Linked DNA regions of Homo sapiens. The protein of the gene in region 2 purifies or fractionates together with the protein of the main gene of each other region. This does not show direct contact. Each region holds a gene or a part of one and is shown on either strand. Other genes may lie near its edges.

What was found. The genes of interacting proteins can lie anywhere in the genome.
Region 1: the proteins of CFAP298 (region 2) and POF1B purify together in Homo sapiens (affinity purification with mass spectrometry; 3 studies listed by BioGRID and IntAct, with this or other methods). This does not show direct contact.
Region 3: the proteins of CFAP298 (region 2) and RNASE7 purify together in Homo sapiens (affinity purification with mass spectrometry; 3 studies listed by BioGRID and IntAct, with this or other methods). This does not show direct contact.

Annotation. Positions count from the first base shown.
Region 1 is NC_000023.11:85,376,659-85,384,115, forward strand, and holds the start of POF1B (protein POF1B), read right to left. Parts: upstream 3,008-7,457; 5' UTR 2,981-3,007; intron 2,838-2,980; 5' UTR 2,797-2,837; coding exon 2,515-2,796; intron 1-2,514. UniProt on the Homo sapiens protein: Plays a key role in the organization of epithelial monolayers by regulating the actin cytoskeleton. May be involved in ovary development.
Region 2 is NC_000021.9:32,609,375-32,616,341, forward strand, and holds the start of CFAP298 (cilia- and flagella-associated protein 298), read right to left. Parts: upstream 3,004-6,967; 5' UTR 2,870-3,003; coding exon 2,731-2,869; intron 632-2,730; coding exon 464-631; intron 1-463. Other genes in the region: CFAP298-TCP10L (uncharacterized protein LOC110091775), read right to left, coding at 464-631, 2,731-2,869. UniProt on the Homo sapiens protein: Plays a role in motile cilium function, possibly by acting on outer dynein arm assembly. Seems to be important for initiation rather than maintenance of cilium motility.
Region 3 is NC_000014.9:21,037,351-21,044,740, reverse strand, and holds RNASE7 (ribonuclease 7 precursor), read right to left. Parts: upstream 2,380-7,390; 5' UTR 2,299-2,379; intron 1,789-2,298; 5' UTR 1,749-1,788; coding exon 1,278-1,748; 3' UTR 508-1,277; downstream 1-507. UniProt on the Homo sapiens protein: Exhibits a potent RNase activity.

The DNA.
Region 1 (7,457 bases), on a different chromosome or scaffold from region 2:
TTAAAATATGTTTATATCCATAAACACCATTTTAGTGCACAAGAGGTTAAGAGAATAAAAGCATGTACTCAAAAGCTAGAAATGGAAAATAAAGTGCTACAGAAAACATTTGATTAAATCGAAAATGCCTACTACATGACCTAAAATTATGATTCAGGAAGCAAAGCAGAGTAGCATCAATTTTGGTTTCTCAAAGGCAACATATTTTACTACTGGTAATATTTATTTTAAAATCTCATTAATTCCCTGAATGTCTTCCAAAAACCAAAAGGCAAAAAACAAAACAAAACAAAACAAAAACAAAGACAAAGTAAAAGTTTAACTGAATTCATGATGATCAACCATTGATTGTAAAATCAATTTTTCTTGCTGCCATGGTCACAAACTCTGGTATTAGGCTAATTGCTACACATCAACTCATCTGAAACGTGGTTTATTAAGGATAGACTTTATTGAAACATAAAGTGAATTAAGGGTTTTTGAGTAATATGTACTGCTTGCTCATGCCTGTCATGGTACATTATACATACCATCACATTATACTCATTTCGTTAGCATAAAGGTAATTTCAGATCAAATCTAGGTCCTACTTTACATGATGCCACAATGCCATTCCATCAATAAACAGGGAGAAAGGAAAATAAAATAGAAGAGTTTCCTCATCATATTCTTTGTGACAGCTATCTAAAAGCTGTCTTGCCAAGTTCTCTTTTAGTGGATTTGTGAATGCCCTTTGATATCCAACTCAGTTTGAAAATTTATAGTCAAATATTCTTTCTTCTTGTTTCACTAAGGAATTAATACTTCTTTTTTTCCCTTTACCACATAGCTTAACTTTCACTTTTCTCATTTTCTAACAGCACTTACTTTTCTTCCTTTTCAATAATAAATAACTTCAGACTTCACAGAGCCCTCCATTCTAATCTTTTATCCCAGTTTCTGCAGCTGCACTTTCTAGCCCTAAGTTGTTTATAAACTCCTGTGTGGCGAGCTACATTTTAGGAAGGAGATAGTCCATTTTTAAGGATCACTTTGGCAAATGCCAGGTAAAATAAGGAAAATCTTGTAAAAAGCTCAACCAACTTGATCCTGAGTTATTGAAAGGGGAAGCTGAACCAAGGAGTAAATAATAAAACATACTCCTAAAAATTGTCCGGTAGCCAATATTTATAATTTGTCAAATTTCAGCTTTTAAATATCTATTTATGTTTCTTTTACTAGCAAGTTGACAAAAAAGGGGTCTAAATATGTTTAAATAGCTATGGCAGATAGGATGATTTTAGGATTCCTAAGATAATAGTAATTGTTTTTAATCTGCACATCATTGTTTTTGAGCTACAATAAAACAAAGGTGGCATTCATTTTGTTCTGCATTAGCATCTCAATATGAATATTGGAGTGCACATTTGCATTATTTTTATCACTAATGCAAACTGGTATTTATGACCTTTATATTTTTCTTCTCCTTGACCTCAGTATAAGTGGAGTTTTTCTCAACCAGTTGAGAAATGTTACTTTATATTCTACTCAAATTTGTGGGTTTTGGAAAAATAATATGTATTACTCCTGATTGGTAATAATAATGTAACATAGCATCATATCCCAATGACTGCTTTTTGAGATTTTTGTATCTTAAAAACATAATTTCAGTTTGGACAGAATTTTCCAGAAAGCTTAAAACATGCAAATTTAATGTAAAAGGAGTCAGAGGATAAAATACACATAAAGCTGTTAATTTTATACAGTCTTGCAGGGTTACCTTGTATTTATTGGGAAGGTTATTAACACAGGTATTGGTGCTAAGAATAACTCTTAAGAAACAAACGTATTTCATTTTATGGGATGTCTTAGAGTTCCATCTTTTGTAGCTTTCATGTAACAATTGCTTACATCTTGCCTTCCTCAATCCTATATCAACTCTTCCAGTACTCTTTCTACAAGTATTCCATAAATTATTCACCTAGGCTGTACGATAAAAAGTGTGTCATTCTTGGAAGATGAAACACATATGACAATTCAGACATCTGCACCTCTCACTTATCCTGGAGCAGCTATACTATTTGCTGAGCACAAATAATTGCTTATCACTCAGACATGCCACAGTACCTGTATCACCATATTTGATACCAAAAAAAACCTGTTTGCTTCTGATATGAAATTAATCAGTAGGAACTTGTTCTAATAAAAATCTACTGTACTCAAGTTGAGAACTGCTTTGCAGTAGGGGCAAAGGGATTCCTTGGATCAGATCTTTCAGTCAGATCAAACAGAAAATGAGCCTTCCTATACTATGGTTAGATTATGAAAATCAGTGAAACCCGGAAACAAACAACCACAGACACTAGTAAGTGAAATAACAGCCAAGAGATGAATTTGGGTGACTATCCAAGGCATATATAACTGCAATCCACCAAAAGATATCCTGTGGAATAGAGGCAAAGAAGCAGAAAGGAAGAGAAATCAGGTTGAAGATTGCCTTTCTCCACTAGTCTGGCATAGCTTTCTTTGTTGTACCTGAGAATGGTCGCTCCAAACCAAATTTTGGTAGGAGGAGGTGGTTTTGAGAGGGGAGAGCACTTCCCGTGAGTTGAAGGGGTCCAAGGCCTGCACCACCTTGTTCATGGGCCCACTGTAGGTCCTCACTCGCTCATACACTACATTTTTTTCTGGAGGCTGCTGGGCTTGGCTTGACTGATGGTAGCAGTGGTAATGCTGGGGCTGGCACTGCAGCACCTCTGGGAGCTGCTGGGTTCCACAGCTGCTGCTGCTCGTCTCACTCCAATAGCTCGAGCTCATCTTCTTCCAGTGGTCAGCAAGGGACCTCCCAGATGTTCTACCTAAGGAACAAACAGAGAAATATAATGGAAAAAAAAGACAGGCAAGCAGGCAGTCAGGCAGGCAGACAGACACACGACACACGTGTGGAAACCGCTTATCAAAACCTCTGCCAATAGTGGTGCCGGGAAGAGAAGAAAGCTACCTGAGCAGCAGCAAGAGCAGGTCTGGCAGCTACAGAGGAAGCAGCAAAATATTTGAGCTCAAATGGAAAATGGAGCCACCCTGTGACATTGCTCCAGGAAATGGTACTGACACGCCCTTAGGGGCGGATTCACTTAGCAGGTTTACATGCCAGGAGAGGCCCTGCCTTGCCACGGAGATAGCTACAAGGCTGCCCAGCAGGTAAAGGAGTCTGTGAAGAGCAGAAATGTAGAATGTCAGGGATGAAGCCAGAGTTTCCAAGCACATGGGCTTAAAAATTCACAAAGACATGAAAATGCAAAAAACTTGCTAGAGAAAAAAAGTCACACATGTTATATGAAAGTGTCTTTTTATGGTTCTTAAGTTTAGCAAAGGTAGTTACCAGCATAAGTATTATTATTCCAGATTCCCAGACTAAAATAATGAGTATTAGTCTAGGAATACACCAATTTTCACAGATAAATTTGCATTCTTTGCAAAACCCATCTGATAATTGCAGTTAAGGAAGATTACTAAGGGGTCTCTTTCTAGTGACTCTGTCTAATATATGGACTTGTTTATCTTACTCAAAGCCTCGTATTCTTTTCTATCATTTGTTGAAGGAAATTTGTCTAAATGATTGAATTGCTGTATAGAAAGGTGGATGGTCAAGAAAAACCTAAAGATTCCACAAATGCTTTGCATTTTGGCATTCACATTTGTTGTTTTTCATTTATGCAAGGGAATTTCTCCTGCCCTTATATGTGCCCTAGGAAACACTGAGTTTGATTGACTTTTTAATATCTAGTTATTAAGGGAGCTGCAAGTCCTGAAAGATGCCTTAACTGACATAATGAGATTTAAATGTGTTTACAACTTACATTTATTACTACTTGAAATTTTGATCATAATGCCTACTTACCCTCAGATTTTGCTATGCAATATACTTCAGCACCACTTAAATCCAGAATACTCTCATTCAAAGTGACTTTAGTAAAAAGTATCTTCCTAATGTGTATATGTGCAATAGGACCTAGTATACTACCACCATTCTAGAGAGGAAGAGAATGTTATCCAGGGGGCTAGCAGCATTTTTTTTCTGCCCAGTGAACAAAGTGTTATGATTTACTATTCACTCTGTGTCAGGTACTGTTCAAGGGGTTTTATGTGGATTATAATTATTTCATCATTGAAGTGACTTTATGAGGTTTATAGGTGAGAAACTGAGGCACAGACATGGAGAGTTTGAAAAACTTTCCAAAGTTAAATAACCTGTAAATGGTGGGCCTGGCATTTTAACATATGGAGATTCATATTAGAGTCTAAGCTCTTATCTGGTATATTATACAGCTAGATAAATTCTCAAATTGTTCCATTTTACAGCTACATAAATTCTCATATTGTTCTGTATCCTGCCATCTAATAAATCTTCTAGATGTCAACATCAAAAAACACTTCAGAAATGCTAGCCATGAGAGACTTTAAAGGAATCTTTAGATTTTCTTTTATGGCTGAGGAGTGTGCAAAAAGCTGAAAATTACCCTTAAAAACTTTTAAGTTAGTTATTACATATTTACATTTATATTTGTGTGTTGAGTGCAGACCTGTCAAATCTGATCCTTGCTCATTTTAATGATATTCCTCAAGAATCAATTAAAATTTTATTAGAAATATGTGACATGTTAAACAGCCTGGTAAAATATCAGATCAATAACTTACTAATATCATTAGCAGTATCACTTTGAATAAACTTTATGTGTGAACAGAGAATAGGGGTTAAGTGGGATCATCCAGTCAGCTTTGATTCATGATAAAAATATAAATTAAACACACACACACACACACACAAACACACATTCATGTGAGCACACAGAATACTGTAAATATCTGCTGCAGCCAAGAAGTGACCTATTAAATAAAGCAAGAGATTGAGATGAAGAAAAAAATTTCCTTTATCCATAAACTGGTGACCATACCTGCCCTTCACATATCTTGGATATATAGTGTTTTGAGCCAACTTCCTTGATACAGTTTGGCTACAATTTGTGTGTAAAGCTGATACCTTCACCCAATATCTGAGCCTCATTCATCACTGTTCTCCATCTCTGGGTATGAGGGACAGAGAGCTTGAAGCTTAGGCATAGTATATTAGAAATGAGATTAAGCACTATCTGGCACGCAAATCACATCTAACTATGAAGCAGGTGTTGACCACAATTGTTCATTTCGGAAAGGCTTATTAATCATTGTCACCAAAATTTCTACTTCTCTGACAACTCACTTGTGCATCACATGATCGGTTTCTCTAATTGGTTTTTCTCCTTTATGAGGATGATGTTCATACTAACACATTTTTGATTAAGAAATAAATATAAATATGTCTTTATGGTAGTAATAACACTTGCCCTATTTTACACTTGAAAATCCAAGGGATTGACATTCTGTATTCTGCATCCTTCATGATTATACCACCCTTCTAACATTAGTGAATGGAGTAGTAAGAGTTGATTCCTTATTCTTAACTCCAGATTTTTTCAGGTAATCTTTAATTAAATTTCCAACAGTTCTTTTGTTTCACACAGTAATGGAGATATTTTATGCTTACCACTGAAAAAGCCTCATTTACAATGACAGATTTGGGGGACACAATTGGTAACCCTTTACAAGTTAATTCAGTTCTAACAGACTTAAGAAGATCTTTATTGCTTTTGATTACAAAAATAATTCATTTTTAAAATTTCAAATGAGTAAATACATGAACAAAGTAGAAAATTAAACTCATCATACTGATAATAGGAGTAAGGGATAGAGCAAGGAACAGAAATGTCTGCTGCACACTTTAATGGTAATTTTTAAAAAAACAATGATTTACATTTTGACTGAGTTGTCTTGAAGGTCATCCGAAAAAGTCCTGATTTGACCTACTGAGGTTGTTGGAAAAACACAGTTGCTTCTATACTCTCACAATACAGAACACTTCTGTGACCCCAGATGTGTGAGGGTTATTTCCCTACCCAACTAGTAAGTGATCAGTTCTACAGTGGACACCAGCTGTGTGTCCTCTAATTCAATCCTGACACTATCTACTTGGAGATAGCATTAAAACTCACAGGTTGAGGACTTTCAGTCCCACAAGACTGTCCCCATTCAGACACCAGTCGCAAGCCCCAGATCATTGTACCTGTGCTCCTGACCAACCAGCTATCAATCAGAGTTCATATGACCCCCCTCCTTGGATTTAATTAATTTGCCAGAGCGCTCACAGAACTCAGGGAAATACATACTTACATTTACTGGTTTATCATAAAGGATATTATAAACGATTCAAATGAACACCAAATGGAACAGATGCATAGGGCAAGGCACAGAGCCTCCATGTCCTCTCGTTATGCTCCATTCTCTAAGAACCTCCACATGTTCAGCCATCAGGAAGCTCTCTTTGAATCTAGTTATTTTGGAGTTTACATAAGCTTCATTATGTAGGCATGATTGATTAAATCATTAGTCATAGGCTATCAATTTCAACTTCTCTCCCCTAAAGAAAGGTGGGGCTTAAAGTCCCAACCCTCTAATCCTGCCTTGGTCTTTCCAGTGACCAGCTCCCCTCCTGAAGCTACCTAGGGGATGCCAACCCTCAGTCAATTCATTTGCATATGAAAATATATTTATCACTTTAGAAATTTCAAATATTTTAAGCGTTGTATGCCAGAAAACAGGGAAGAAGACCAAATATCTATTTCACAATATCACACCTACTTCATAAAATTGTTATTAGAATCAAATGTGAAAGTGTTTGCTGATTTTAATATAGTACCCAGGCATATGATTTTAAAATATGTTATTCACAGATAATGTGTTATAATTTTTGTCAAATAGTAGGCTTTGAAAAGAAAATATGAATGCCAGAGGAGGCTATAGGCCTGGTTTATAAAAAGCTTAGCTACCTGAAACTGTTAAGGTAAAACAAATAGGTAATTAATTTATCAAAAATGATATATATATATATATAACTATCTTAAACATTAAATCATAAAGGTAATTATAAACTTATCATCAAATATATTTCATCAGCATCAGTAGTTTTCATGTGTATAACTAATCCTGCACTCCACCTTCTATTTTATGGGGATGATGCTCAAGTCTATCTCTAGCCCAGCCTCACCCCCGGGGCTAATGATACAATGGCAAAAGATAGTTAAAGCAAAGTTACTCAAGTCTTTTTACTTCTGCGTTCTCTATGATCAAGGAGAAGTATGTACACACTGGAAAGGATCAATAACCATTGGTCCATTCAGAGGAAACTGAAGCCCCAAAGTAGATGAGATGACTGTATGAAATCACTTACGTTTTACTAAATGAGTCCAATTCATTTGATTCTGCAGAACTACATTCCAGCCTTCTGACAAAGTTGAGCTTGTTTAACTGCTGTTGAGAAACTTTAGACTGGGAAGTGTTTCAGATTATAATATATGAAAAAACATCTGTCTTGATTTGGAAAA
Region 2 (6,967 bases):
AGCTTCCTTTATCTACCTAATTCATCCTAGATTAGAGTTTTACCAAAGGAGCTACAGAGTACAGTATTTTGTAAGTCTGTAGAGAAATGACGAGGTCAATTTTTAAACGTAAAGAACTGCTTTCTCACACCTGTAATCCCAGCACTTTGGGAGGCCGAGACCGGCAGATCATCTGAGGTCACGAGTTCGAGACCAGCCTGGCCAACATGGCAAAACCCCGTCTCTACTAAAAATACAAAAATTAGTCAGGTGTGGTGGCACATGCCTGTAGTCCCAGCTACTCAAGAGGCGGAGGCAGGAGAATCGCTTGAACCTGGAAGACAGAGGTGGCAGTGAGCTGAGATTGTGCCACTGCACTCCAGCCTGGGCTAGAGCAAGAATCCGTCTCAAAAAAAAAAAAAGGAACTGTTTTCATACTTATGCCTGTATCAAGCATGCACATAGAAGAGAAATCCTCACTTACCTTGCCCATTCCTTCGTCCAATATCATCCTTTTTAAACACTGCACCTCCGCTGGGTACGCATTTTTCACCCCATTCATCCTTCAATTTCAATTCTTCAATCTGATCATCGGTCAGTCCTTGCATATTAGGAGGGAGAAATATGCCATGTTCGGCTAATTCTTCCATTTCTTAAAAATAAGTGAAAGACAGTATCACAATCATAACACCTCATACCCCATTGGAATGTAAGCTCCAAAGAGTCAGGGGTCTTGCCCATCTGGCTCACTATTTTATGGAACAAACATTTATATGCCACTTGCTATGTGCCAGACCTGGCCTGGGCCTTTGACACGGGGGCATGGTACTGGTCTTATTCATCCTTGTCTTTTTTTTCTTTGAGACAGGGTCTCCCTCTGTCACCCAGGCAGGAGTGCAGTGGCGCGATCTCAGCTCACTGCAGCGATCTCAGCTCACTGCAGCATTGCCTCCCGGGTTCAAGCGATTCTCACGCCTCAGCCTCCCGAGTAGCTGGGACAACAGGCATGTGTCACCACGTTTTGTATTTTTAGTAGAGACTGGGTTTCACCATGTTGCCCAGGCTAGTCTAGAACTCCTAGGCTCAAGTGATCCGCCCGCCTCAGCCTCTCAAAGTGTCAGGATTACCCGTGTGAGCCACCACGCCCGGCCCCATCCTTGTCTTCTGAAGGCTGAGCACTGGTGCAGAATAAATACATGAATTTTCAGTTCACTAATGTGACTCTTAGCATTCAGCACATTTCCAATTTATAACGTTATAGGAAAAGAAGATGAATTCCTTTTCTCCTCAAATGCTTTAACTTAAAAATAACATTTAATATTGAGTTTGTGTTGGAACCTCAATTAAGAAACTACACATAAGTTTCATGAAAAGAACCATGACCCTCAGGAATTTCTCCACGGTGCAAAACTCACATATTCATATAATGTAATCAATACATTTCATAATAAATCACATATTCATGCAATTTAATAAATCACATAAATGAATATACTATTTATTGCAAATAGTTACGTTTGTATATTCTATATATACACGATAGTTATATAAACAGTAATATCCTAGACCACATCAGGAAGTATCATCCCGTCAAGTTCAAAAACTATGCTGTCTAATGCGGCAGCTACTCGCTCCACTTGGCGATTTAAATTTATTTAAATTAAAATGACCCAGACGCGATGGATCACACTTGTAATCCTAGCACTTTGGGAGGCGGAGGCAGGCGGATCACCTGAGGTCAGGCGTTCGAGACCAGCCTGGCCAACATGATGAAACCCCGTGTCCACTAAAGATACAAATATTAGCTGGGCGTGGTGGTGGGCGCCTGTAATCTCAGATACTTGGGAGGCTGAGGCAGGAGAATAGCTTGAACCCGGGAGGCGAAGGTTGCAGTGAGCAGAGATCGCGCCACTGCACTCCAGCCTGGGCAACAGTAAGACCCTGTCTCTCACACACACACATACCATATATATATATATATATATAATTTATTTATATTTATATATACATATATATAATTTATTTATATTCATATATACTATATATATGGTATTTATTTATATTTATATATATTTAATTAATTAAAATGCAAATGTAAAATTCGGTTGCCTGGCCGCACTAGCCACATTCCAAATGCTCTACGGCCACAAGTGGCCGGCAGCTGCCCAATGGACAGCACAGATGGGGGCCCTTCCACCGCCGGAAAGTTCTGCGGCAAAGCGGGTGCCCTGGAACCTGCGCGGGGTAGGGAGACGGCGCCGCAACGCAACAGGCCGTTTCCAGGGCGGGGAAAGATCACCAAGGCTTCCTCAACTGTAAGGGGCCGTCCCAAAGCCAGGTGGCTCGCTGCTTTACATTGGGCGACTAAAAATAGTAAATTCAGCTTTTAAAAGCCCACCTAGTTCTCATCTCACCCCTCACACGTGATTAATTGCACTAAGTCTGCTGTTCAGCCCGGCCTTTCGGCTCCCTCCTCCCTCCCCAGCCCATTTCCACTTATTCGCAGCACCCCAAATCCTGGCTCCGAGAGGCACCTGGGCCCACCTCCCAGCCCGGGGTGTCAGACAGGCCGGATCTTCTCCGGTTCCTTATTCATCTCCGGTTAACCCTAGTGTCCCGTTTCAACCCCGGCTGCTGCAAATCTCTTCAATAATCTTCACAAACCTGACCCCTCGGCCCACCCTGCCCCTCTTTCTCCATCCCACGCCGGTCTCTCGATCTGTCCGGGATGGGCCCACCCGCGAGCCGCACCTGAGCAGAGGCGCTGCACCTTGAGCCGCCCATTATAGACCCGGGCCACCTGCACCGTGAGCTCCTCCAGCTCGGTACTCCCAGGCGCCTGCAGCAGGAACTGGCTCTCGTCGCCCCGCTTCACGTGCAGCAGAACCATGGCGGTCCCGCCGAGGTACTGAGGCGTTGAGAAGGCCCCGGCTGCGTGGCCCGCGGGTCCTGCCGGCCGAGGGTCGCCGGATCGCCAGCAGCTGCGACGCACTAACAGCCGCTCACAGTCCGGAATCCCACGCTCCCTAGCCCGCGGTGAGCGGGGGAAACGGCACTCGCTCCCGGAAGTGGATGTTGCCAAGAGCAACAGTGAAGCAGAGTTAAAGAGCCGCCAGCTCAAGCTCAGAACCCGAGTGGGGGAGGCTGGGGTGCACCGAGGCCCAGCAATCCAAGCCCGTACGGAGCTGCGGCCGGGGAAACCACCCACACAGTCTGAGAGGACAGCTGATTCTGAGCGGACCGACGGAAGGAGATTCGCAGAGCCCCTTCCCGGAAGTGACTGTTGTCGCGGCAACTGCCAAAACACAGACCAAGTCGCTGAAGGGGAGGGCGGACCTCCCAATCGACTGGTCTGGGGCCCGAGATTTCCACTCAGGGAGATACGTGGGCTGAGATGGGAGTTACTAGATGGGGAACGGGAAATACGGCGGGAACCACAATCGCGCAGTTCCGCAGCTGCCGCCCCACAACCGCTCCACATTCCAGCGTCCCTTCCGCCGCTTTCAGTCTCCACTTCCGGCAACGTTTCCACGCTGTTTCCGGCCTGGGAAAGTTCGGCGGCAGCGACCCAGAACTGAGTCTTGCTGTTCGCTGCTGTTTGCGCGGGTCAGCTTTTCAGGACGGAGGGGCCAGGGCGAGTGTCCGCACTTCTTCGTTCAGGTTGATTTGGATGGCGTTGCTGGGGTAGCTCCAGCGGCCCCTGCCAGAGCGACCCTCCCAGAAATATCCAGCCATCCTCCAGCGGACTCTTGCTGAAGGCAGTCGGCGTCAGTCGCTGTTTATTCCGGGCCCCACAGATCCAGAGTCACTGCTCTCATGGAGCTTATATTTTAGTGTGACAAAAAGAAAACAAAAATAAATGGACAGGCCAGGAGCGGTGGCTCACGCGTGTAATCCCAACACTTAGGGAGGCCGAGGAGGGCGGATCACCTGAGGTCAGGAGTTCGAAAGCAGCCTGGCCAACATGGTGAAACCCCTTCTCTACTAAAAATACAAAAATTAGCCGAACGTAGTGGCGCGTGCCAGTAATTCCAGCTACTAGGGAGCCTGAGGTGGGAGAATTGCTTGAACCCGGGAGGCGGAGGTTGCAGTGAGCCTAGATCGCGCCACTACCCTCCAGCCTTGGCGACAGAGTGAGACTGTGTCTCAAAAATAATAAATAAACAAACGGACAACACAAATTCAAATACAGATCTAAAGAAAACTAAACAGGTTGATGGACTTCTTATGTTTGATGGTCAGGGAATGTACACCTTCTGCGATATTGGGAGTAATATTATCGTCTCCCGCCCTGAATATTTAGAAAAATATCACAGTGGGGTGTACACCCCTGCGATATTGAGAGTAATGTCATCCTCTCCACCCAGGAAATTACTAACAAGGTCACGGAGGGGTGTACTCCCCCTGTGATATTGGGAGTAATGTTTTCCTCCCCAAACCTGGATGTTAGCAACAAGATAACAGAGGGGGTGTACACACCCTGCGATATTGGAAGTAATATGATCCTCTCCCCCCCGGATACTGGGAAAAATATCACAGCGCGGGTATACATTTCCTTCGCTGTTGGGAGTAATATCATTCTTTTCCTCTCTGGATATCAGGAACAATATCACAGGGGTGGTGTACATTTCCTTCGATATGGGGAGTAATATCATCCTCTCCCCGTTGGGATACTAGGAACAATATCCCAGGGGGGTGTCCACCCTCTGCGATATTGGGAGTAATATCATCCTCTGTTTCCCCGGATATTAGACACAATATCACAAAAAAGTGTACACCCCCTGCGATATTGGGAGTAATATCATACTCTCCTTCCCTGGATATTAGAAAACAATATCATCAGGGGTGAGCACCCCCTGCGATAATGGAAGTAATATTTTCTCTTTTTTTCTTTTCTTTTTTTTTTTTTTTTTTTTTTAACAGAGTTTCACTCTTGCTGCCCAGGCTGGAGTGTAATGGCATGATCTCGGCTCACTGCAGCCTCTGCCTCCCGTATTCAAGCGATTCTCCTGTTTCAGCCTTCCAAGTAGCTGGGATTACAGGCATGCGCTACCATGCCCGGCAATTTTTTTTTTTTTTTTTTTTTTTTGTATTTTTAGTAGAGACAGTGTTTCTCCATATTGGTCAGGCTGGTCTTGAACTCCCGACCTCAGGTGATCCGCCTGATTCAGCCTCCCAAAGTGCTGAGATTACAGGCGTGAGCGATCGCGCCCAGCCACCACTTAGCATTTTCATTTTACATTTGTTGAAGTTACAGATTTATACACACATTGATTGCTGCTTTATTATACACTTGCATATACATAAAATGGGAAATAGAAAAGAATAAAATGGGCACAATATCCCTAAAGTTTCACATTCCGAAACATTTTTTAAATATTTGCTTTTTAGAAATTTGTTTCAATTAAGAAACTGCGGTATACACACACAATGAAGTATTATTCAGCCTAAAAAGGAATAAAATCCTCTCCGCTGCAGAAAAAATGGATGAGATTGCAGGTCTGTATGTTAAGTGAAATAAGCCAGGCACAGAATGACAAATATTACATGTCCTCACTTATACGTAGGAACAAAAAAGAAAATCTTGGCCAGGTGGCTCAGGCCTGTAATCCCAGCACTTTGGGAGGCCGAGTTGCACGGATTACTTGAGGCCAGGAGTTTGAGAGCTGCCTGGCTAACATGGTGAAACCCCGTCTCTACTAAAAACACAAACAATTAGCCAGGCGTGGTGATGCGTGCCTGTAGTCTCAGCTACTCGGAAGGCTGAGGCCCAAGAAGCGCTTGAACTCGGGAGGTGGAGGTTGCAGTGAGCCTGGACTGTGCCTGTATGCTCCAATCTGGGCAATGGAAAGAGACTCCATCACACACCTACAAACAAAAGGAATCTCAGGAAGGTGGAGAGTATAAAGGGGGTTAGCAGACGCTAGGAAGAAAAGGGGTGGATGGGGAATGAGGAGAAGTGGATAATTGGGTCCCAAAATACAGAAAGATGGAGTAAGTGAGTTCTAGTGTTTGATAGTACAGTATGAAAATTTTAGTTCACAAGAATTTCTTGCATATTTCCAGATGCTTTGGTAAGAAGCTTCCTAACTTTCTCATTATGCTGGTTTTTAAGCTCTTGTCTTCTGCTCTTGAAATCATGCTGGTTTTTTGTTTTTTGTTTTGAGATGGAGTTTTGCTCTTCTTGCCCAGACTGGAGTGTAACAGTGCAATCTTGGCTCACCACAACCTCTGCCTCCTGGGTTCAAGTGATTCTCCTGCCTCCACCTCCTGAGTAGCTGGGATTACAGGCATGCGCCAGCATGCCCAGCTAATGTTGTATTTTTAGTAGAGACGGGGGTTTCTCCCTGTCGGTCAGGCTGGTCTTGATCTCCTGACTTCAGGTGATCCGCCCGCCTTGGCCTCCCAAAGTGCTGGGATTACAGGCGTGAGCGACCACGCCCGGCCCATGCTGTATCCTTATCTGTTGTTTGTTGTGGTTTGTTTGTTTTTGAGCCCAGAAATAACTTCTCACCTATGTGTTCAAATGATTTTTAACATGAGTGCTAAGAAAGCTCATTGGTGGAAAAGCAGCCTTTTCAAGAAATGGTGTTGGAGAAACTTGATTTCCACATGCAGAAGAATGAAGGTGGACCCTATGTCACACCAGGTGCAAAAATTAACACAAACTGGATCAAAGACCTAACCCCAAGTGCTAAAAGTATAATATGCCTCAAAGAAAACATTGGCCACACTTTCATGACATCAGATTGGGCAATGCTTTCTGGGATATGACACCAAAAGCATAGGCAACGAAAGAAAATTAGATTCCTTGGATTACATCTAAATGACAGACACTTTTGTGCATCAAAAAACACTGTGAACTGAGTGAAAAGATAACCCATGGATTCGGAAAAATATTTGCAAATCATATATCTGAAAAGAGGCTGATATCCATCATGTATAAAGAACAGCTAGAACTAAGCAACAAGAAACCCAAAGCATCCCA
Region 3 (7,390 bases), on a different chromosome or scaffold from region 2:
AGATAAAGGAAGAAAGAAGGGGATGGTGCTGGTCAAGCAATGTTGGAGAGACCATCAGGACTGGCCAATACCAAGCCATACCTTCTCCAGCTCCAGTCCCCAGAACGAGAGAAATGGTATCTGTAGCCCAGGGGGACAGGGAAATGGCATTTTCGCATCTCAACCCCTCAGGCCTGGGCAGACTGCCAGAGTGGAGAGCCAGGGTAGCAATGAGGCAGGGGAGATCATTATCAGGAGGAAGGAAGCTCTGGCAGCTCCCACCAGCCTGTTTGTGACAAGCAGGCTCAGGGCCACGGAAGTCCCTTAAGGTCAAAGGAAATGTGATCCTGGATCTGGGGGATGAAGCTCAGACACTCCCTTTACCTTATGTCTTCAGGCCAAGGGGATCTGGCCAGAGCCAGGTCCAGGGCCTAGGTTGGAAGAGCAGTGGTCTAGAGAAACGGGAGGGGCAGTTAGAGAGGAAGAGAGAGAAGGAATAAAATGCCAGAGCACCTCATAAACAATCTCTTGGCTAGAGAGGTAATGACCTTTATTGCAGCCAACACAGGGTAACTGGCTCTTCAGAGCACTCGTTTCTTCATGAGTGAACTCTTACCTAGTTCACCGCTTGCCTCTGTAACAGTGACTTCTTTCTTGCGCAACTGGTAGAGTAGAAGGTACACTGTATTTAGAGCAAGGAGACCTAGGTTCAAGTCCAGGTTCTGCTACTAACTAATTAGACAAGCTCTTTAATTCATTAAGCTTTCTAAAACCTTAATTTCCTCATCCATAAAGAAGGCATACAATCCCTGTCAAGTCTATGTCACAAGGGATTAGAGGATTCTATACAAATATGAAGTGGTATTTATTTATATTTTTCTTTCCTTCAGGTCACCTCACTGCCACGTCAGAGCTGGGGAAGACTTCTAGTTCAGGAACAGAAACAGCTGTGTCCACAAATCCCATATGCCCCCTTTCCATTTATTTCCTCTCCTTGTCATGCTGCCCTAATGCCAGGGGGCAGGGGAGACATGTGCAATGGCATAGACCAGGGAACCCACAGACCTGAGCTTGCTGTTTCTTGGGGATAAGCATCTGGGAAAACAGCAACAAAAAGATGAAAAGCCATCCCTCTAGAGCTCAGCTCACCAGAGTGTCAGCTTCAGCCTCCCAGCAGAGGCTGAACCAGGAACAGCCCCAAGAGATGAGGGGAAGAGAATGCTCTGGGTGTAGGGGAGTGGTGCGGAGTCCTGGAGAGGGAATTGAAGGTCAGCCAAAGAGCAAGCCAGTCTGGAAACCTAAAGGACTCTGTCCAAGTGTACAGGAACCAGGTGGAATTGCTGAGAGTCCTTTTTCTGGGGAGGCTTACAGGCCACTACGTAAGACTTGTTCTGTCGCTTCTCTTTGTACCTGCAGTTCGGATGCTTCCCTGAGGTGAGCTTACACATGGTCAGGGACACGGCCCCGTGGCTCTGGTGGCAGTTTTTATCGCCATTCTTGCAGGCTATTTTGGGGGTCTGGCAGGTGGCGGCCACACTGGAGAAAGGCTCGTGCAGGAAGGTGTTGAGGTCTTTGCACCGTTTTGTGTGCTTGTTAATGTTTTTCATGGCTGAGTTGCATGCTTGAGGGCTGGGCTGCATGTGCTGAATTTTAAACCACTGTGATGAGGTCATGCCCTTGGGCTTGGCACTGACTGGGATCTCTGCCACCCACAGCCCCAGCAGCAGAAGCAGCAGAAGGGGGCAGAATCCTGCTCTGGCCGGTGCCATCTCTCTTAGGAGGAGCAGTCAGGATGGAGGGCAGGGGTCGCTGGGACAGAGGTGTTCAGTTGAGAAATTAGTCCTCTTATACCTGCTCATATGAGCTAGTCACCCATCTCCCTACTCGGTTGTCTCCTTTCCTCACTTTGTGTCTCATCTCTGCCTCTTCTTCTGTGTGTCCACATCCACTGCAGCCCCAACAACAACCCTGTGGCCCCATCTCTCATCTTGTATTTCTGTTCCCTTCATTCTGTCCCTGTTGCCTGTCACTCTTTGTCCTCTCCCCTTTCCCTTAAGTCTCATCCCTTTTGTGTCTCCATGTTCCTGTGTCTGTGTCTCATCCTCTCCCGATTCCCATCTCGTCTGTGTTCCCATTCTTTTTCATTTTTTGCCTCCATCCCCAACATCACTCTCCCCTTTCCCCAATGCGTGTCCTCATCTCCCCTAAATCCAGTCCCTCCTTTATCCATTTTATCGCTCACCTGAGTGTACTCTCAGGATCAGAACCCATCCCTCCTTCTCTGTCCTCACTCCTCCCCAGATCCTGCCACAGCCTCACCTTTGCGCTTGGTCTTCGTGCTGTGACTCCTGCTCAGTGGGCTGAGGTGGTGTCCACGCACTCCTAGGCTGTCAGATCTCTGAGGGCCTCTTCTCACTCCTGAACTCCTTAAGAGCTGGCCCGGGCTACGCTGTGTCTGTTTGGGGGTGGGCTGGGAGCATCACTGGATCAGGAAATGAATCAGGTTCATGCCTCTCCACTTACATGTCCCAAATACGTGGACACCTAAGGATGCCTGTACCTGCCTAAACATGTTCAGCAATGAGGAAGCTTGAATCGTCACATTCGAAGACTGTATTTGTTCCCTGGCCACATGATTTTAATGACTCTTTAATAGAGCACCTGACCCAGGTGTCAACTGAAATCAATTTCAGGAAGAGTTGTCATTCATATCCTCTCATATACACTTCTGGCCCTTGATCCTGGGAAGAGTCAATCACTGTGGTGTTAAGGGTTGCTTCTTCTCTGACCTGAGGCACAGATAGGACAGCCTAGAAAGATGCTTTGTCTGGTTCCTTGTCATCTGGAGATACTGGTTATCTTTCGGAGGAGATGGAACAGACACGAGGGAAGTGGGTGAATGAATCATCACTGTCACGAGGCCTGGCACCATCCCCAATAGCGAAGCCATTCCACAATGATTCACAGGCCTCTCCAGTTCCAGGTACCAACCAAGGCCACATGGCTTTAGCTGGAGAAGGCAGCCAACACCTCTCAATTTCACTTGTTCCCTCCCTTTTTTATTGAAAATTGCAAAAATTTAATACTGCCCAAATGTTTGTGTTTAAAATGCTGTTGCTGCTCTCGACATCCTGCCTTAGTGCTTCCTTCACCTTGTATGTCCTGTTCCTTGTGGTGGTTACAGCTGTGTGGAGCATCTGGGTCAGTGCTACTCCAAGCTCTTGTGAGCTTGGAATATGACACTCAGGAGAACCGAGACACCAAGGCAGAGAAGCATCACCCTCTGTGGGTGAGAAGGCCTGTAAAACTGAGATGAGGAATATTTTTGTTTTCAGAATTTACCTGTAAGTAGTAGGCAATCTCAGAATCTTGGGCATGCTTCATTCATGTGGTCAACAAACATTTATCGAGCATCTACTAAGTGTCAAGATACTTGGGATATATCACTGAACAAAAAAGGCAAAAATGGCCAGGTACGGTGGCCCACACCTGTAATCCTAGCACTTTGGGAGGCCATGGCAGGAGGATTGCCTAAGGCCACGAATTCAAGACCAGCCTGGGCAATGTGGCGAAACCCTGTCTCTATAAAAAATTTGAAAAATTAGCCAGGCATGGTGGTGCATGCCTGTGGTCCCAGCTACTCCAGAGGCTGAGGAGGGAGGATTGCTTGAGCTTGAGAGATAAAATCTGCAGTGAAAATCATGATTGCACCACTGCACTCCAGCCTGGGTCACAGAGTGAGACCCTGTCTCAAAAAACAAACAAACAAACAAACAAACAACAACAAAAAACAAAGACAAAAGTCCCTGCCTTTGTAGAGCTTACATTCCATTGGAGAAAGACAGTAAAAAAAAATACGTATACTTTGCTCAAAGTGATAATGGCTAGGGAAAAAAGTAGAACAGTATAGGGGTTGGTGGTCAGTAATTTTACGTAACATCGTTGAAATCGCTGACTCTGGGGCAGAGACTTGAAGATAAGAGTGAACTTGTGATTATCCGGAGGAAGAATGTTCCAAGTGAAGAGACTAGCACTGCAAAAGCCCCAGAGCAGACAGATGCCTGAGGTGTTGGAGGAACAGCAGTGTGTCCAGTGTGGCTGGAGCAGGTAACTGAGAGTTCAGAGAGGGACCAGAGACCAGGTCATTGGGAAGACTTACGGACCATTTGAAGGCCTGTGGCTTTTACTCCAAGCACAGTAGGGAACCCTGGAAGGGTTCTAAGTAGATGAATAAAGAACGTGTCAGCTTAAAGGATTACCTGGCTGTTGTGTGGATTATAACTGTGGAGAAGTCGCACAACCCATCCTGATCATAAAGTTTGTGTTCTGGTCCAGAATTTATGATTCTAAGTCAGGAGGATGGGGAGTTTGTTTTGAGGCCAGGAGGACATTATTTTAGTAGCTGGACAGCACAGCTGTGGGTTGGGGGTCAGGATGAAGGATCTTTAGAAGCAAAAGTGGTGCTGGAGATGAGAAATGCCACTAGATGGCAAAAGAGAATCAAGAACAAGTTCACACAGGCCTCTGGCTCTTCTGGTTTGTCCTCAGCGAGGCCTTGGTTGGGGGAGCAGCTGTTCACTTCTTTGTTAAGGTATCCCAAACTTTGCAGGCTGAACTTCTGGATAGAAGTTCTGGATAGAGAATTATGCCCCTGCTGCCGTAGAAACATGAATGTTAGGAGATAAAATCCACGGTTTAAACCAGGCTGTGTATCAAATGTGTATCAGCACAGGCCAGTCTAGCCTTTGGAGTGGAGGCTGGATGGAAGGCTGCAAGCTCATTTGAATGCCTAGCTTGGTCTCCTTTCTACTTCTCATTATCCTAGAGTGGGATGTTTTCAAGCCATGATTTAAATTTCCCTCTACACTTGTGTTTTCCTGATATTATAATTATCCTAGTTTGCTCTTCAACTCGAGTATGCTGGGCTGCGTAGAAGGCTGCCTTAGGACTGTGTGAAAGTGAAATAAACATGGCCCTGCTGCTTCAGTCCAAAGGGAAAAGAGAGTAAGGTTTTAAGTTTGCACATGAAAATCGAAATTGAGTCGTACCTACCATACGTGCAATTCAACTGAAATCTTTGTTTTGCCTCAATTATTTGGATAAGGGAGGTGATTTTGTTTGTGTGCCCAAATTATCCAGCTTCCAAGATCTGCTTCACCTTGTACTTGGTAGGCTGATTTTGCTATTTTGGCTTCACTGCATTCATGGGGCAACAGAAAAAGATGGAGGAAGGGGGACAAGTTTAGGAAGAACAAAAAGATTCAGGCATCAGGCCAGGGACTGGTTCAGGAGTTTCACAGGAGGAGAAGAAAGACTCTGAGAGAGAGAGCAAGAGCAGAAGACAAAACAGTGGGAGAGAAGACAGAAGGGAAGAAAAAGTCCCTTACACCAGCAATCTCTACCCCTGCTTCCTTCTCATTCTATCGTCGAAGTCACTTCTGTTGGCCCAGCTTCTCCTTAGGCTGTTGTGTGTGTGTTTAAGTTGGGGCGGGTGTTGTGAAAATCCCAACAGTGCCAGGTGGACCTCTGCCTGTCTTCCCCACAGGACAACAGCTGCTGCTTCCTCTCGCCTGTGCTGGGAGGGAGTGAAGGGGGAAGGGAGAGAGGAGGGCCGGGCCTGGATTGGTGCCTACCCTTCAGAGCCAAGCCTCTCTGCCTTCCGGAGTTCCACACAGCCTCTGGATACCAATGGAAAGCCCGTGAGAGTTCCCTTCCAAGCAAAAGCAGATCCAAGTTCTGTTATCCTAATTTTGTTGGTCCTTTGATAAATAAAGGTAATGGGCTCATTTTTGTAGACTGAGAAAGTGAAACATACAGCAAGTTGAGGTCAGATGTGGGACTTTCTTCAGGTCCTTGAATTCCCATGACCTTTCCTGGAACAGCTGTGGGTCAGGAGGAGGCAGCACTGACAGAAATTTGGAATCCTTGGCTCCCAGACCAATGCGTTTAGACAAGCCAGGATGGAGGAAAGAGGAAACTGATTTGGGGGTTCACTGGGGCCTTGTCTCACAAGCCCTCCCAGCTCCCCATTTATCTACAGAGCAAAGTATCATTTCCTTAGCCTGGTAATCAGGGTCTGTCACAATCGGGCAAACCTGTCTTTCTAACTTTATCTCTGATTTTTCTCCCACTGAGTGCCTCAACCCCAGCCAGACCGGTTTCCCCCCATTTTTCAAGCATGTCTTTCATAATCCTCTTTATCTCCACTGAACTTCTAACTTCACCATGAGATCCATTTCCAAGCCAGGGTGACCCTTCAGGAAAACTTTCTCTGACCCTCCCAATTCAGAGACATCTTTCTCACCTCTAAATTCCTACAGCATTTACTGTCTTCAGAATGTATAATTTTCTGCCTTGAATCACTGGTTATTTCTTCATGTGTATGTATTATTTTTCTCTTAGACTGTCAATTCCCACAAGATGAGGACCACCCGTTACATTTCTTTTGCACATTTCACAGTATATAGCATAATGCCTTGCATATAAGTGACCCTAACTGATTCAACTTTTAGAAGGCATTCCGTCTGCTCCTGAATGATCCCAGTCTGAGGTGGGATTGCCTCCAGCCCACAGAGATGGTTAACAGATGAGGAAGTGACAATGCGGCTTCTAGACTTCAGCCCTGGGTTTGAGGTGATGCTATGAGAAGAAGGTTGAGATGGCTGAGGCAATCCTTCAGGTTCAAGGACAGCCCAGGAACTGTCCATGACACAGTATATTGTTTGAGCAACTTGAATTGGACAGGGCAAAAGATAATGCCAATGAGATCATGGTGAGCCCACTCAGAGCAAAATTTTGGGGTTCTCCTCAGTCATAGGGAGTCACCCTTGCACCTGCCACCCTAGCCAGTTGTTCTATAAATGCTTACCATTGGGGAGGGAAGGGAGAGAATGTGTAAATGATTACATGCAGAGGGTCATCTTTACAGGAAAAACAACTCAGTTATTGTTTCAATGGTGAACTATCAATACACATTTTTCTGGTAGAATCAGCACCATTACAATCAACATTTGTTTAACAAAAATATTTTGATGTCCCAGATGTTTATCATTTTTTTAATACATAAGATACAAGTAAGTCTGCTTTGGTTAAGAAATTTGATTAGCTAATTATTTAGACCAGGGCTTCACAACCTCAGTGTTATTTACATCTTGGTCTGGATAATTCTTTGTTATGGGAGCTGTCCTGTGAAATGTGGGATGTTCAGCAATATCCCTGGCCACAGGCCAGTAGCAACTCCTGGTTGTGACAACCAAAAATGTCTCCAGACATTATCCAATTGTCCCTGGAACTACTGAATTAGACATATGACCTTGAGCAAGCCACTGTCACTCTAGAACTTAGTTTTTCATCCCTAGGGAAATGCTTGTGTATGTAAAACCCGGTGTAATGGGGTAACAATCCCACTAAT